Linked DNA regions of Homo sapiens. The protein of the gene in region 3 purifies or fractionates together with the protein of the main gene of each other region. This does not show direct contact. Each region holds a gene or a part of one and is shown on either strand. Other genes may lie near its edges.

Region 1 (3,775 bases), on a different chromosome or scaffold from region 3:
ATAAAAGTAAGGACATGTCTGGCTTCACTTTTTTATAGATATCCTTCTGAACTATGAATAATCTCAAAAAATTATTTTGGGAACATGTAATGAACTATTCCATATCTCTCCTAAAGCAGTGATGCTTGTCGTCATTAAGGAGGCTCTCCTATTGCAATGATAATTTTCCAAATAGATTATAAATTCCATGAGAACAGGAGTTACGCGTTCCTTATATTTCACTTATTTCCCTTTCATATCACACAGAATTGTGATATGCATATAAAAAAATGAACTCAGTATAATACATAAAAATCTCATTACAGATCAGCATTAACAGATGAACATCCACAACTGATTCTGATGACTAGGAATGCTAACTTGAACTCCGATGAAATGAAATGTTACTCCCCCAAAACCAATTCTGTTCTTCTCATTAGTAGACCTGTATTACAAAAAAATTATATGGTATTATGTTTTAGATTGCAACAATAAAATTTTGTGAAGTTTGCTTCCTTCTTGTTGTACACATACTTTTACAATAATCTTGATTTTGCCTACTGACCTACAGTCAAAAGTACAGTTGTCCCTCGGTATTCTCGGGAGATTGGTTCCAGGACCAACTCCCCTGTTTGCAGCTACCAAAATCTGTGGCTATGGCCTTGGTTCCACTTCCCTTGAATATTGTACTTTCAATCTAGAGTTGGTTGAACCTGAAGACTCAGAACCTGCAGATCTACAGGGTCAACTGTATTTACTATCTGGTCCTTTACAAGAAAAGTTTGCTGACCCCATGACATGGTTAAATCATGCAAATATAAAGAAGGGGCACCCAACCCATCTTTTACAGGCAGTAGGTAGTTAACATCAAAGAATGTTTCCTAGAAGCAGTGATGTAGGGGTGGGACCTGAGTTAGCTGGGCAAAGAAGGTGGGGACTGGACGAAGAGTAGTCCAGGCAGAAAGAAAAGCATCTGCAAAAGCCTGAAAGCAAAAGAGTCATCACATTTAGAAAACTGAAAGGTGTTCAGGATGGTTGGAACCAAGAGAGGATAGAGAGGGGCCAAATGTTGCTGTGAGGTCAAGGAAGACTAGGACTGAAAAGGAAGCCTTGAATTGGTGAGGGTCTCAGTGGACTGGTGAGGGCAGAAATGCAATGGGTTAAGGAGAAAATAGAAGACCCAGAGACAGTGAGAAAGAAAAAGATGCAGCTAGAGGGGGATATGAAGTAGAGTTTTCTTCAAAGATGGGAAAGATTTGAATGTTTTGGTTAAATGCTAAGGGCAGGCAGCCCTAAGGACAGGGAAGGGAGTCAGAGTAAAAATGGAAGGATTAGCTTTAGAAGGAAGCAGTATACCTCTTCTATTGTTACCAAAGGGCAGACAAAAAGCTTGGCGTGGATTTAGGATAGTTTTTAGATACAGTAACAGAAAATTGAGGAAGTTCTCTTATGATGGCATCTACTTGTTCAATGAAGTAGACGGAAAAATAAAAGTTTTAGAAAGAAAGGGAAAGTTTTAAAAAGCCAAGGTTGCAGATTGGGGAAGAGAAAGGAGGTGAAGCCTGTGAGGATTACTGGACAGACCTATGGACCCAGTTAGGGAACAGGCCATCTTTTAGCAGCATTAGCTTGTGGAGGCGTGAGGTTTCTTCTAGCAGCATTAGGAAGCCTGGCTGTAGGCTCACAAGGGGTAAACACTTGGACTGATCCAGGGCTGGGCTTTTGTTAGATGGGTTTGGCAGAATACCCAATGGGATAAAGCAGTTGAGAGCACCAGCAAGAGAGTGGATGAATGGGTGGACCATGGAGTCTAACAGGAGTAGGGATGTAAGCACTCCTCTCAGATGGAAGTACTTAGGGATAGAAGTACTTAGGGATGGAAGGCTCAATGAGGTTAAAAAACAAAAATAAAAAGCAAATGAAATGGGAGTAACTTGAGTGAGAACAATGAATGAATAAGGGGTTCTTGCTGAGAATGAGATTTGAATTTGAGTTTTTGGAGCTGGAGTAGGGTAGACTCACTACTCCAGCTTAAAATGTAGGTGAAATTAGTGGAGGTGAAGGTCACTGCAGATAGGAGACTGGAGTTAGAGTCAAAATGGCCAAGGCTCCACTCAGCTTCCATAGAACAGCATATGGAGTCTGTGGATCGCTCTTGAGAAAATATTTGCACCCCAGGGTTTCTAATGACATGACGTTGGGGGACATTTTCCAGCAGTCAATTTTCAGAGTATTCAAATGAAGTTAACTTGTTCCATCTCAGACCTGTGTGCTCCCTCACTCCTCTTTACTCTGGTCATGCTTGTCAGATCTCCTTCTGGGACAGCAGAGTGTGAGGAACACAGGACAGATAACAGACTGGATTCAGGAATCTTCACTTGAAGGTAATCCTGACACCTGCTACCACATGGATGAAACTTAAGGACATTATGCTAAGTGAAATAAGCCAGTCCAAAAAAAAAAAAAAGACAAATACTGTATGATTCCACTCAAATGATGTACTTAAAGTAGTCAAATCATAGAGACAGAAAGTAGAATGGTGCTTGTCAGGAGCTGGAGGGGGGAATGAGGAGTTATTACTTAGTGAGTACAGAGTTTCTGTTTTACAAGATGAAAAGAGATGTGGATATGTTGGTAATAGTTGCTCAATCATCTGAATGTATTTAATGCCACTGAACTGTACATTTAAAGATGGTTAAGATGGTACATTTCATGTTATGTGTATTTTATCACAATTTTTAAAAACTGGAAAAAAAAAAAAAAAAAAAAAAAAAGAGGCTGGGCACAGTGGCTCACGCCTGTAATCCCAGTACTTTGGGAGGCTGAGGCAGATGGATCACTTGAGCCCAGGAGTTCCAGACCAGTCTGGCCAACATGGTGAAACCCCATCTCTACTAAAAATACAAAAATTAGCCAGATGTGAGGGTGCATCCCCGTAATTTCAGCTAGTCAGGAGGCTGAGGCAGGAGAATCACTTGAACCAGGAGGCAGAGGTTGCAGTAAGCTGAGATCATGCCACTGCACTCCAGCCAGGATGACAGTGAGATGCTGTTTAAAAAAAAAAAAAAATCCCGTTCCCAGCCAGCCATTAGGTTTCTTCCAGACTCCATACAAAGGATTATGGTTAGCTGTATTCATGCAGGTCCTGGCTTCTCCAACCCCCATAAATCCTGGGCCCCTCTTAAGGAATTTTTTTTTTTTTTTGCGACAAGGTCTTGTTTTAACACTCAGGCTGGAGTGCGGTGGTGTGATCACAGCTCACTGCAACCTCAAACTCCTGGGCTCAAGCAATCCTCTTGCCTCAGCCCCCCAAGTAGTTGAGACTGCATGTGCATGCTACCATGCCTGGCTAATTTTTAAATTTTTAGTAGAGATGAGGTCTTACTATGTTGCCTAGGCTGTTCTTGAAGTCCTGGGCTCAAGTGATCCTCCCACCTTAGCCTCCCAAAGTGCTGGGATTATAGGCATGAGCCACTGCGCCTGACCAGGAATTTTTACTGTCCTCTACTCCGCCAAAAGGAATCTACTGAGTACCCACTTTGTGCTGGGTACCCTGCTAGTATTGGGGATTACAGAGGCTTAGGACGTGGTTCCTTTCCTCATGGTTTAGTGGGGCAAACCAGCAAACAATCCAGCACAATAACTACAGATAGAGAAAGCCACGTGTGCTCCCATCCCTCACCACAAACACTGTGGTCTTGGCACCAGCAGGACCAGCAGCAGCAGCAGCAGCTGGGAGCTTGTCAGAAATGCAGAATCTCAGGCCTCACCCAGATCACCTGAATCAGAGTTGGCA
Region 2 (3,775 bases), on a different chromosome or scaffold from region 3:
CCTCCCGGGGCAGGCAACTGAAGCCCGGGGCAACCCTGCAGAGGAGGCCTGAAGGCCTGCAGACGCAGGCTGAGGGACCAGGCAGGAAATCCACCTGGGTGCTCCTGCACATCCTCAGGGTAGTAGCTATCCCAGCCCCCTACCTCCCTCACCTCAGACTTCAGACAACCAACCGCATTCATTAGACTATCAATCTTCTTATCATAACGGTTCATTTTACAGTGACCTGAGTCATCATCTTCTGTAGAGAGGTCACTTAACCGCATCACTGAGACCAGCTTTTCTGAAGATGGTGGCGTGATCTCCAGGCAATGAGGTGGATTCTGATGTAGAGGAGGGAGAAACACATGAACTCAGAAGGCAGAACCTTGACCACGAGTTCCACCACTGGAGGCTTATTTACTGATTAGACGGGAAAAGCTGTAACAGCTAACTCGGGGACCCCAGGAAGAACATACTCTGAACCCTTGTGATGGAACATTACCTATCCATGTTTAAATGATGGTTTTGGAGAATTCCCAACATCAAAATTAAAAGCTTGGGCTACAATGTTAAGTTTAAAATAAAGAACATAGGCTGGATACCCTGTAAAACCAGTATATTGGGAGGCCGAGGCGGGAAGCCAAAACCAGCCTCAGCAACATAGCGAGACCTTGTCTCTATAAAAGTAAAAGAATTAGCTAGCGCTGGGCATGGTGGCTCACATCTGCAATCCCAGCGCTTTGGGAGGCTGAGGCGGGTGGATGACCAGAGGTCAGGAGTTTGAGACCAGCCTGACCAACACGGTGAAACCCCGTCTCTACTAAAAACACAAACTTAGCTGGACATGGTGGTGCATGCCTGTAATCTCAGCTATTCAGGAGGCTAAGGCTGGAGGATCGCTTGAACCCGGGAGGTAGAGGTTGCAGTGAGCCAAGATTGCGCCATTGCACTCCAGCCTGGGCAACAGAACGAAACTCCTTCTAAAAAAAAAAATCAGGTGGGTGTAGTGGCACATGCCTGTGATCTCAACTAATCAGGAGGCTGAGGCAGGGGATTCCTTGAGTCCAGGAGTTCAAGGCTGCAGTGAGCTATGATAGCACCACTGCATGCCAGCCTGGGTGACAGAGCGAAACCCTGTCTCTAAAAATAACAATACTCATAAAGAAATAATATAACAAATCAGCAAAAACATTAATAATACCCAAAGTTGGCAAAAGTTTAGGGCAGTACATTTTTTTATACCTAGGGTAGAAATGAAATATGTCAAAAGTCTTTTAAATGAATATGAATAGCTGATAGTGGATTAGTTACAAAGGTAGATGAATCTGCTGAAAAGGTATTGTAGAAACAAGTGGGTAAATTGGAAAAAGGACCAGATATTGTATGATATTAAGAAATGCTCTTAGGAGTAATCAGTTATTTTGATGATGTAGAAAAATATTATAAATGCACATGGTACAATACCTGGAAAGTATTGTATTAAAAAAATACAATACTTTTTAAATACGTCAGTATAAAAAATATTTTAGGGCCAGGAGCGGTGGCTCATGCCTGTAATCCCAGCACTTTGGGAGGCCAAGGCGGGCGGATCACGAGGTCAGGAGATCGAGACACTGAAACCCCGTGTCTACTAAAAATACAAAAAAATTAGCCGGGCGTGGTAGCAGGTGCCTGTAGTCTCAGCTTTTTAAATATTTTTTTAAATATTTTAAAATGCATATATGCTTCAGGAAACTTTATGCAAAGCTGTAAACACTTTGCTTTTTTTTTTTTTTTTTTGAGACAGGGTCTCACTCCATCGCCTAGGCTGGAGTGCAGTAGTGCCATCTCGGCTCACTGCAACCTCCGCCTCCCAGGTTCAAGCAATTCTCCTGCCTCAGCCTCCCGACTAGCTGGGATAACAGGCACCTACCACCATGCCCAGCTGATTTTTGTATTTTTAGTAGAGGTGGGGTTTCACCATGTTGGCCAGGCTGGTCTCGAACTCCTGACCTCAGGTGATAAGCCCGTCTTGGCCTCCCAAAGTGCTGGGATTTCAGGTATGAGCCACCACATCCAGGTATGTATATTACTTTTAGAAGAAAAGAAGTTACTTTTAATACTTAAAATGACAAAAATAGGAAAATGTATAAACAGTCATGTGCCACGTAACATTTCAGTCAGCAATGGACTGCATATATGACAGTGGTCCCAAAACACCGTATTTTTACCGTACCTTTTCTATATTTACTATGTTTCAATATGCAAATACTTACCATTGTGTTAGTTGCCTACAGTATTCTGTACGGCATCATGCTGTAGAGGTCTGTAGCCTAGGAGCAATAGGCTATACCATACAGCCCAGGTGTGTAGCAGGCTTTACCAATCTCGGTTTGTGTAAGTACACTCCATGATGTTTGCACAATGATGAAAGTGCCTAACAACATGTTTCTCAGAATATATCCCCATTGTTAATTGATATATGACTATATATATATATATATATATATATATATATATATATATATATTTTTTTTTTTTTTTTTTTTTTTTTTTTTTTTTTTAATTGAGATGGAGTCTCGCTCTGTCACCCAGGCTGGAGTGCAGTGGTGCAATCTCGGCTCACTGCAAGCTCCGCCTCCCAGGTTCACGCCATTCTCCTGCCTCAGCCTCCCGAGTAGCTGAGACTACAGGTGCCCGCCACCATGCCCGGCTAATTTTTTGTACTTTTAGTAGAGACGGAGTTTCACTGTGTTAGCCAGGATGGTCTCGATCTCCTGACCTTGTGATCCGCCCGCCTCGGCCTCCCAAAGTGTTGGGATTACAGGCGTGAGCCACCACGCCCGGCCACATGACTATATATTTTTTAAAATGACAAATATATATATATATATATATATGGGAAAGTGTGACTACTTACTCCTTGTGATGGGGAGGGAGTGACATAGACAAAAGCCAGGGGCAGCTTCTAGGATGCTGGGTGATCGTTACACAGGTACCTTCAGCTTGTGAAAATTCATGGAGCAATACACTTCTGATGGGTGTACATCCCTGCACTTTTCCATTTTTTTTTTTTTTGAGATGGGGTCTCACTCTGTCAAGCAGCCTGGAGTGCAGTAGCACAACTTTGGTTCACTGCAACCTCTGCCTCCCAGGCTCAACCCATCCTTACACCTCAGCCTCCCAAGTAGCTGGGACCACAAGTGCACACCACCACACTGGGCTAATTTTTTGTATTTTTGGTAGAGATACGGTTTCGTCACATTGTCCAAGCTGGTCTCCAACTCCTGAGCTCAGGTGAACCGCCTGCCTTAGCCTCCCAAAGTGCTGGGATTACAGGCGTGAGACACCAGGCCCGGCCAGTCCTCTTTTCGTTTTTCTTTTCCGTTTTTTTTGTTTTTTTTTTGAGATGGAGACTCGCTTTGTTGCCCAGGCTGCAGTGCAGGGGCGCGATCTTGGCTCCCTGCAACCTCCGCCTCATGGGCTTAAGCAATTCTCTTGCCTCAGCCTTCTGTGTAGCTGATATTGGTGGCGCGACCACCACGCCAGGGTAATTTTTGTATTTTTAGTAGAGACGGGGTTTCGCCATGTTGGCTAGGCTGGTCTCAAACTCCTGATCTCAGTTGATTTGCCTGCCTCGGCCTCCCAAAGTGCTGGGATTACAGGAGTGAGCCATTGCTCCTGGGCCTGTACTTTTCAACAAGAAATTTTGAAACTTAATAGCAGCCAGAATTGAGTAGCTGATTATTTTTCTGTATTTTCAAATTTCCCTAAATAAAAATAGATCACTTTTTTTTTTTTTTTTGAGACGGAG
Region 3 (4,051 bases):
ATAATTACATCGTAACATTTTAGTCTTCTGGGAAATGCTTTCTACAAATAACATTGTTACATTTCTAAGGTTATACATGTACATATAGCCATAGTTTATTACTATTTTTTTACTACTATGTGATATTTCACTACTGAATATACTACAATTTATCCACAATCTACATAGTGATTCATCTACAATCAGTGGACATTTGGGTTGTTTCTAGACTTTTGCTATTACAAACAGTACATCAGAACACTCCTGTACATGTCTCTTGGTGCAAACTTACAAGTTTCTCTTGAGTAAACATTTGGGAATGGAATTCCTGGGCCAGAATATATGAAGAGTCAATACATATCCACAATCTTGGTGTATAAGGTGTATAATATAATGGTTCTTTTTTTTTTTTAGACGGAGTCTCGCTCTGTCGCCCAGACTGGAGTGCAGCAGCACGATCTCGGCTCACTGCAAGCACTGCCTCCCGGGTTCAGGCCATTCTCCTGCCTCAGCCTCCCAAGTAGCTGGGACTACAGGCACCCACCACCACACCTGGCTAATTTTTTGTATTTTTTGGCAGAGACGGGGTTTCACTGTGTTAGCCAGCATGGTCTTGATCTCCTGCCCTCGTGATCCGCCCGCCTCGGCCTCCCAAAGTGCTGGGATTACAGGTGTGAGCCACCGCGCCCGGCCTATATAATGGTTCTTAACTCTGCCTGCAAAAGAATCATCTAGGAACCTTAAAATATAGTCTAAGTCCTAACCAGCCCTACTGACTTTATTTTTAGGAGGGCAAGGCCATGATCTGTTATAGTTTTAAAACTTCCAGCCAAGTGCAGTGGCTCACTCCTATAATCCCAACACTTTGGGAGGCCAAGACAGGAGGATCATCTTAGTCCAGGAGTTTCAGACCAGACTGGGCAACAGAGCAAGACCTCGTCTCTACAAAAAATCAGAAATTAGCTGGGCACGGTGGTGCACTCCTGTGGTCCAGCCACTTGAGAGGCTGAGGCAGGAGAAACTGCTTGAGCTCAGGTCAAGGCTGCAGTGAACCGTGATCAGGCCACTGCACTCAGCTTAGGCAACAGAGTGAGACCCAGTCTCAAAAACAAACAACAAAGTTCCACAGGTGATTCTGTCATAGCCAGTCTCTGGTTTTCAGCTGGTATATGGAAGCAGTCATTAATGTAATAATTAATACCTAAAAAATTGTTTAGTTATTCATTCAGGAAAAAGTTGACTTTTCAAAAAGTTTATCACCTCCCAGCCTCAACTCCTGTAACAAAACTAATACATTTCCTTACAATAGAAAAGTAAAATGAACCAGCTTGGGCAACATAGTGAGACACCATCTGTACAAAAAATACAAACATTAGCCAGGCATGGTGACATGCACCTGTAGTCCCAGCTACTCTGGAGGCTGAGGTGGGAGGATCACCTGAGCCCAGAAAATTTAGTCTGCAGTGAGCCAAGAATGCATCACTGCACTCCAGCCCAGGGGACAGAACAAGACCCTGTCTCTAAAAAAAGGTTTTAAAAAAAGCAAAAAGAAAAGAAATTACTCCTAGTCTCATCATCCAGAGATAAACACTGCAATGAATTTTTTTCAGAATTTTTGTGGGTACATTTTAATGTAATGGAAATATAATAATACACTTAAACTGCATATTTTGATTGAGTAGACTTTTTTTTTTTTTTGAGTGGGGTCTCGTTCTGTGCATGATCTTGGCTCACTGCAGCCTTGATCTCCTGGGCTCAAGCAATCCTCCCACTTCAGCCTCTTGAGTAGCTGGGACTACAGGCACACGCCACTATAACAGGCTAATATTTGTATTTTTTTGTGGAGATGGGGGTCTCACTATGTTGCCCAGGCTGGTTTCAAACTCTTGGCCTCAAGCAATCCTCCTTACTGGGCTTCTCAAAGTGCTGGGATTACTGTACCCGGCCCTGGTTGAGGATACTTCATTGCTCTTTTTCTAATCATAAAGTTATCATTCTATGGAGATACAAAGTTTGAAAGACCACATAATAAGTCATCAACTGAAGTTATCTCTGGGAAGTGGGATTGATTTTTAAAACTAGGCATGCACTAATTTTTAATTTTAGACAAAAAAAAAAAATGACTCCACAGAGGTTTGAAAAACACAGAAAAATATAACAAAGAAAATTAAAAATCCCTAATTTTACCATGTTAAAGACTATTTATATGTACTACTCTTTAACCTAGTTGTGATCTACCATAGGTATTAAGTCATATTAATACAGGGATGTTCAAACATCTAACAGAAGATGATAAAAGCTGGGTACTGATAATGGGCAACATTGCAACCAGGAAGTTTGATAGTCTTTCCTCCCCACTCTCAAAAAAGGCCACTGTTTCATGTCATTCAACATGAATTTTATGGTGAGATATTAAGTCTCTTTGGTACACTACTAGTTAAACATTTCAGGTTAGATTCAAAGATGAACTCACTTACTATCAAGAGCCACGTGGTGGTGGGATTCCAGTACACATGTCAGGCTAGGATCACCATTTCTCAAGTCTCCCCGACATCATTTGTCAAATGTACAAAAACTATAAAAAAGTATGTTCATTTTGCAATGATGTTAACTTGTATCACTATGACACATGTATCAAAGTTTCCATGCATAACCAAGGCATGAGAAATAGATTTTTAAAGCATTGAGGATTTACCTTAAGATATTCACTGTATTCATCCTCAAACTTCTTGCCCCAAATACTGTTGCCTCCTCTTCCAGTTCCTACATTACAAGTGAAGCAAATCAAAAGAAGTATTTAATTAAATTGAAAACAAGTTCATTTCCCAAAACTTAAGGAATACTTTATAGTTTGACTGCTTAAATATAGATAAAATTTGATATGGCCTTTCCTAATTCCCCAAATTTAACTTCACAGACCTGAAGATTAAAACAGACCTACAAAAAACAAAAAAGAATAACCCTCCTTATAAATATTGTTCATATATATTTAAGTATGAAAAGCTTCACAAATTTGTGTCTCATCCTTGTGCAGGGGCCACACTAATCTTCTCTGTATTGTTCAAATTTTAGTATATGTGCTGCCAAAGTGAGCACAATATTGTTCACATTTTAGGGGTAGGTGCTAATAATTTCTGCTTTAAAATTGCACCATGTAATACTATGCAGCCATAAAAAGGATGAGATCATGTCCTTTGCAGGGACATGGATGGCTGGAAGCCATCATTCTCAGCAAACTAACACAGGAACAGAAAACCAAACACCGCATATTCTCACTCATAAGTGGGAGTTGAACAATGAGATCACATGGACACAAGGAGGGGAACAACACACAGCAGGGCTAGTTGTGGGTGGGGGCAAGGGGAGGGAGAGCATTAGGACGAATAGCTAATGCATGCTGGGCTTAAAACCTAGAGGACAGGCTGATAGGTGCAGCAAACCACCATGGCACACATATACCTATGTAACAAACCTGCATGTTCTGTACTTGTAGAACAGAACTTATTAAACAAAACAAAACAAAACAAAAACTCCACGTATTTAATTCCTCTTCTTTTACCCACTTCTTCATACTATACATTCAGTTCCTTAGATCTTGGTTAATGGAATAACTTACCTGTTGGATCTCCTGTTTGAACCATGAAACCCTTGATATTCCTATGAAATATACAGCCATTGTAGTAATTACTGGCACAAAGAGCCAAGAAATTCTGAAGGGAGTAAAAATGATTGAGAAATGATGCAGCAGAAACCCAGTTAAGACAAAAAACCAATCATATTTACTGAAAACGTGATAGCAGCATATTTAAACTATGACTGTTGTCATTACTTTGGATGTCATTTCCCTGCCTACAACACTTCAATAGCTTCCTTCTCCTCTTGAAATAAAATACAAAATCTTTCGCCGGGCATGGTGGCTAACGCCGGTAATCCCAGCACTTTGGGAGGCCGAGGTGGGTGGATCACGAGGTCAGAAGATCGAGACCATCCTGGCTATGGTGAAACCCCATCTCTACTAAAAATACAAAAAATTAGCTGGGTGTGGTGGCAGGCGCCTCCAACTACTCTGGAG
Region 4 (3,775 bases), on a different chromosome or scaffold from region 3:
CTCCATTAATTATGAAGTGTGATTTATCTCTTCACTGAATTAAGAAGTAACAAGAAAAAGTATATGACACCATACCAACAACTTAACCCAGAATGTTCATGATGCTGCATGTCAACTGCCAACATTTCTGTGTAAGGAAAAAAACCTTCATTTCACATATTTTATTTAAATAACCTTGTTTTATTTAAGAAATATTTAAAGTCATGTGTTAGAAGAGACTACTCAGCAACTTAAATAAAAACACTCAGAGAGAGCAAATAATATCCTCCCAGACAAAGCATCTTGTTCTTCCCTTTAAAAAGTACTATTTTCTACTGGGGAAATGGATTCCTCAGAGTATGCTTTCTTAATTAAACCTGAAGGCAATTAAAATCAAGACTTTTGTGAAGTTGCAAAAAAAAATGACTGAAAAAATTAATTTCAAAGGGAAAGTACAGAGAATGGAACTGCAATGACAAGAATGAATTCACGTATAATCTCTGAACAGGTGGGGCTGCCCATTTGCTGTGTATGTGAACCACCGTACTGCCTGTAAGAGAGAGATGGGCTTCATTTTCTTTATTTTTTTCCTCTTCTCTCCTTTTTCCTCTCTACAACTTCAATTTAATTACAATGACTAAAGCATAGTCCATGACAGAAAAACTGCAGCAAAATTAACAAAAAACTTTAGAAAAGAACTTACTTTTTATGTAATACGTCACAAAATATTTAAATTTTCAATGTTTTCTCTCTATAGAGGAAGAATGTTGACTCCTTGGTCTCTATATGTTAGTACAGGTCTCATAACAATTTTAAACATTCAAGTTTAAAACAGGTGGTAAATCTGCATCTAATAAAGATAGCTAGAGAATGGAATTATCACTCTCAACATAAAAAGAATAGTAAAAGTCACTTCAGTTTAAAAAGATGATGAATTAGATCACTTACATTGATGGGGGAGAGGAGATGCACCGAAATGCCAGTGCAAATCCATTCTTAAAAACACTGTGTACTATGAAGAGTATCCAGATATTCCCTAGAATCTCTTAAACTCAGGTTACATATTCCTTATTTTCTCTTACCAGCCCTTAATTACATGAGCGAACAAGCTCAATCTTGATCTTGATTGTCAATAGTGGGTGTATTCAAGCTCATTTATATATATTTTAAGTAAAATAAACTTTTGTTTTCTGAAATTATAAACAATGTGTTCAGACATTTATGATTGCATTTCTTTGAGTGGGATTTGATCTACTGATTACAGTTTTCTTTATTTTAAGTGCATTAAATCTGCCTTTTAATATATGTGAAAATGCAAAATGAAGAATTTTCTATCTTTATGGGGCACAAGAACAAAAAATAAGGTGCCTGTGACTTCAAGAGCCCCACATGAATAACTGTATATTATTATTATTACAGTTACTTGGGCTTTATTGCTACATTGATCATTCATCTACACATTCTATACAGTTAATTTTTCTGATCTGGATTGCAGAAAAAAATTGGACAGAGATACCACTTGGGTGCCAACCCCGGTTCTGCCATTAATTTGTTGTGCTACAGGGTTTCCATTTTCTCACGTGCAAAATAAAGGTGCTCAATAGGTGGTCTCTGAGTTCTATTTCACTCCAAGCCTCCCAGAGTCCATAATGCCTAATTCTGAGCATAGCCCTTTGCTCAAAAATGTGCAAGGACTCCCTACTATTTGTTACAGTCCAAGCCTGGATTTCCCAGAATATGTGCTTGAGCATATTTCACCTGTGAGCATGTTTCACCCTACGAACTCATCTTGCAATAGCCTCCTCTTTACCAGTTGAATTCCAACTCATTCTTACAGGTCTAGTTCAAGGCCGATGTTTCACTGAAGTCTTCCTAATCTCTGAACCTGAAACTAACCATTCTCTCCTTTGAAGATTCAAATAATTCATTTATATATTTTAAAATATCTATTTACTATCTATTGTCTATCATCTTATCAGTTATCTATAAACATACTGCAGCATCTCTTCAACTAAATTATAAGCTCCTCAAAGGAAAAAAAAAGTCTTTTTCATCTTTATATTACCTCATGTTGCCTACAATAGTCACTGGTACACAGTAGGCACTCAATAAATACTTGCTGTTGATGAGTGAGCAGTGCACGTGCTAAGAGCTTATAAATGGGTGTTGAATTCATCACCAAAAATACAGTAACTTATTTTGTATCTGTTTTATTGAAATAAACCAATTAAATTTCTATTATATGCCACTTCAAAACAACCAAACGTGACATCTTTAAAGCAAATCAATTATTTGGTTCAAAAGTTTGACCCTCTGACTTTATGGTCATGATGTATGATATAATCATGTATGCTGTCCAATGCAATAAATAAGGGGTTGTGGGCAAAAGCCCAACCACATGGCTTAATAATGGAGCCCAGGCCCCATCTGTTGAAAAAAAGTAGATAGGTATGAAAAAAGGGACTCAAGGGTCACTTCCATTAAGAGAGGCAGAGAGGACAAGCTGACTGGAGGAAGATGAGCCCTCACAGGTTGAGCCCCAAAATCATGGGATGAAGTACTTAAGGACACTGAGCTTAAGGGGACAAAGACGCCTCATTTAAATGCCCTGTAAGCCTCCATTTGCATGAGGCCCCCTTCCAGCCCTGCTACAATTTCCCTACCTAGGGTTGCTATGTGCAGCTTTTGTGCTCTAGGTTCTAGCAGGAGAGGACTCTAGGGCCCTTGCTCACCATTGGGAGGAAGAAGGGTCATCTGTGTGCCCCAGGCCTCCAGGCACAAGTTCAGCAGGTGCCTTCTATCCCACACTCATGTCTCTGACTCCAGCACTGCTAATAGGGTCATTCCCACTTTCCATCCCAGTCCAGTTCCTACTAAAACTCCCTTAATCTGCCTAGTCTAAGGAGGTGTGTGAATTTCTCTTCTTCTCCACTCCTGAATGGCTCTGATACCTGTCTTCTTGAGCTAGGTCCCAGGCTCACCCCACCACAGGAGCCACGAGAGCACCACAAGTCCTGTAAAAGCACAATTCTGGCAGTTTTCAAGGCCTGTTTGTTGGTAGTAATCACGGCAGCCATTAGGACAACGATCTGCATTCTCCGTTTTCACAAAGAAACTAGCACACTTCTGAAATACTATTTTATTAATACAGTCTAGATATTGAAAAGTAATCACAATCTTGATAGCATAAATACACATCTGTACATTTTAGGAGGTACCATGGCACTGTCCTCACAGGAAGACACACTTTAGGCATGTAGACTGGCCATGACACAGGAGTTCTGGAGGAGTTTCTCAACTTGCCTTTACTTCTCATTCGCCTCCATACATTATACATGGGAAGTCAACAGAATGAAATAAGATCTTATTTCTAAGGTTAATTTTGGGGCAAGCTCAACATAACATTACAAAAATAAAGAGCTATATTTAGAGTTACGGGCTGTCCGAGACCTTTAGTACATTTCCCATCAATATTTAATCTATTCTGGCTAGCTTTAATAAATTGTCACAAGGTAAGAAACCATTAAGTCACTAAAAAGAACTGCAAAATATTACAAGAGTTATAATATTGCTGCAGCCATAATTTAAATTTAATTTTAAATATTTTATTAGCTTATTTTATCAGATGGAATTAACAGAACATATCGATAAATTAGGCAGTATAAGGCTGCACAGCTATTTCAATTATACATTATAAAAGAGTAATTTTATAATTTAAAAATTTTAAGCAAGCTAGCATATTCTGTCTTGCCAAATCTATAACAACATAATGATACAGTTAGACGCAAATAAGAGT

The links. Proteins that work in one complex are often made in the same cells at the same time.
Region 1: the proteins of PPIL3 (region 3) and GPALPP1 purify together in Homo sapiens (affinity purification with mass spectrometry; one large-scale study listed by BioGRID and IntAct). This does not show direct contact.
Region 2: the proteins of PPIL3 (region 3) and ODF2 purify together in Homo sapiens (co-immunoprecipitation; one large-scale study listed by IntAct). This does not show direct contact.
Region 4: the proteins of PPIL3 (region 3) and PLCL2 purify together in Homo sapiens (affinity purification with mass spectrometry; one large-scale study listed by BioGRID and IntAct). This does not show direct contact.

Annotation. Positions count from the first base shown.
Region 1 is NC_000013.11:44,995,763-44,999,537, reverse strand, and holds part of GPALPP1 (GPALPP motifs-containing protein 1), read right to left. Parts: intron 1-3,775.
Region 2 is NC_000009.12:128,465,731-128,469,505, reverse strand, and holds part of ODF2 (outer dense fiber protein 2), read right to left. Parts: intron 582-3,775; exon of another isoform or gene 324-581; coding exon 153-323; intron 1-152. UniProt on the Homo sapiens protein: Seems to be a major component of sperm tail outer dense fibers (ODF).
Region 3 is NC_000002.12:200,878,747-200,882,797, forward strand, and holds part of PPIL3 (peptidyl-prolyl cis-trans isomerase-like 3), read right to left. Parts: intron 3,690-4,051; coding exon 3,596-3,689; intron 2,743-3,595; coding exon 2,675-2,742; intron 1-2,674. UniProt on the Homo sapiens protein: PPIases accelerate the folding of proteins. It catalyzes the cis-trans isomerization of proline imidic peptide bonds in oligopeptides. May be involved in pre-mRNA splicing.
Region 4 is NC_000003.12:17,017,180-17,020,954, reverse strand, and holds part of PLCL2 (inactive phospholipase C-like protein 2), read right to left. Parts: intron 1-3,775. UniProt on the Homo sapiens protein: May play an role in the regulation of Ins(1,4,5)P3 around the endoplasmic reticulum.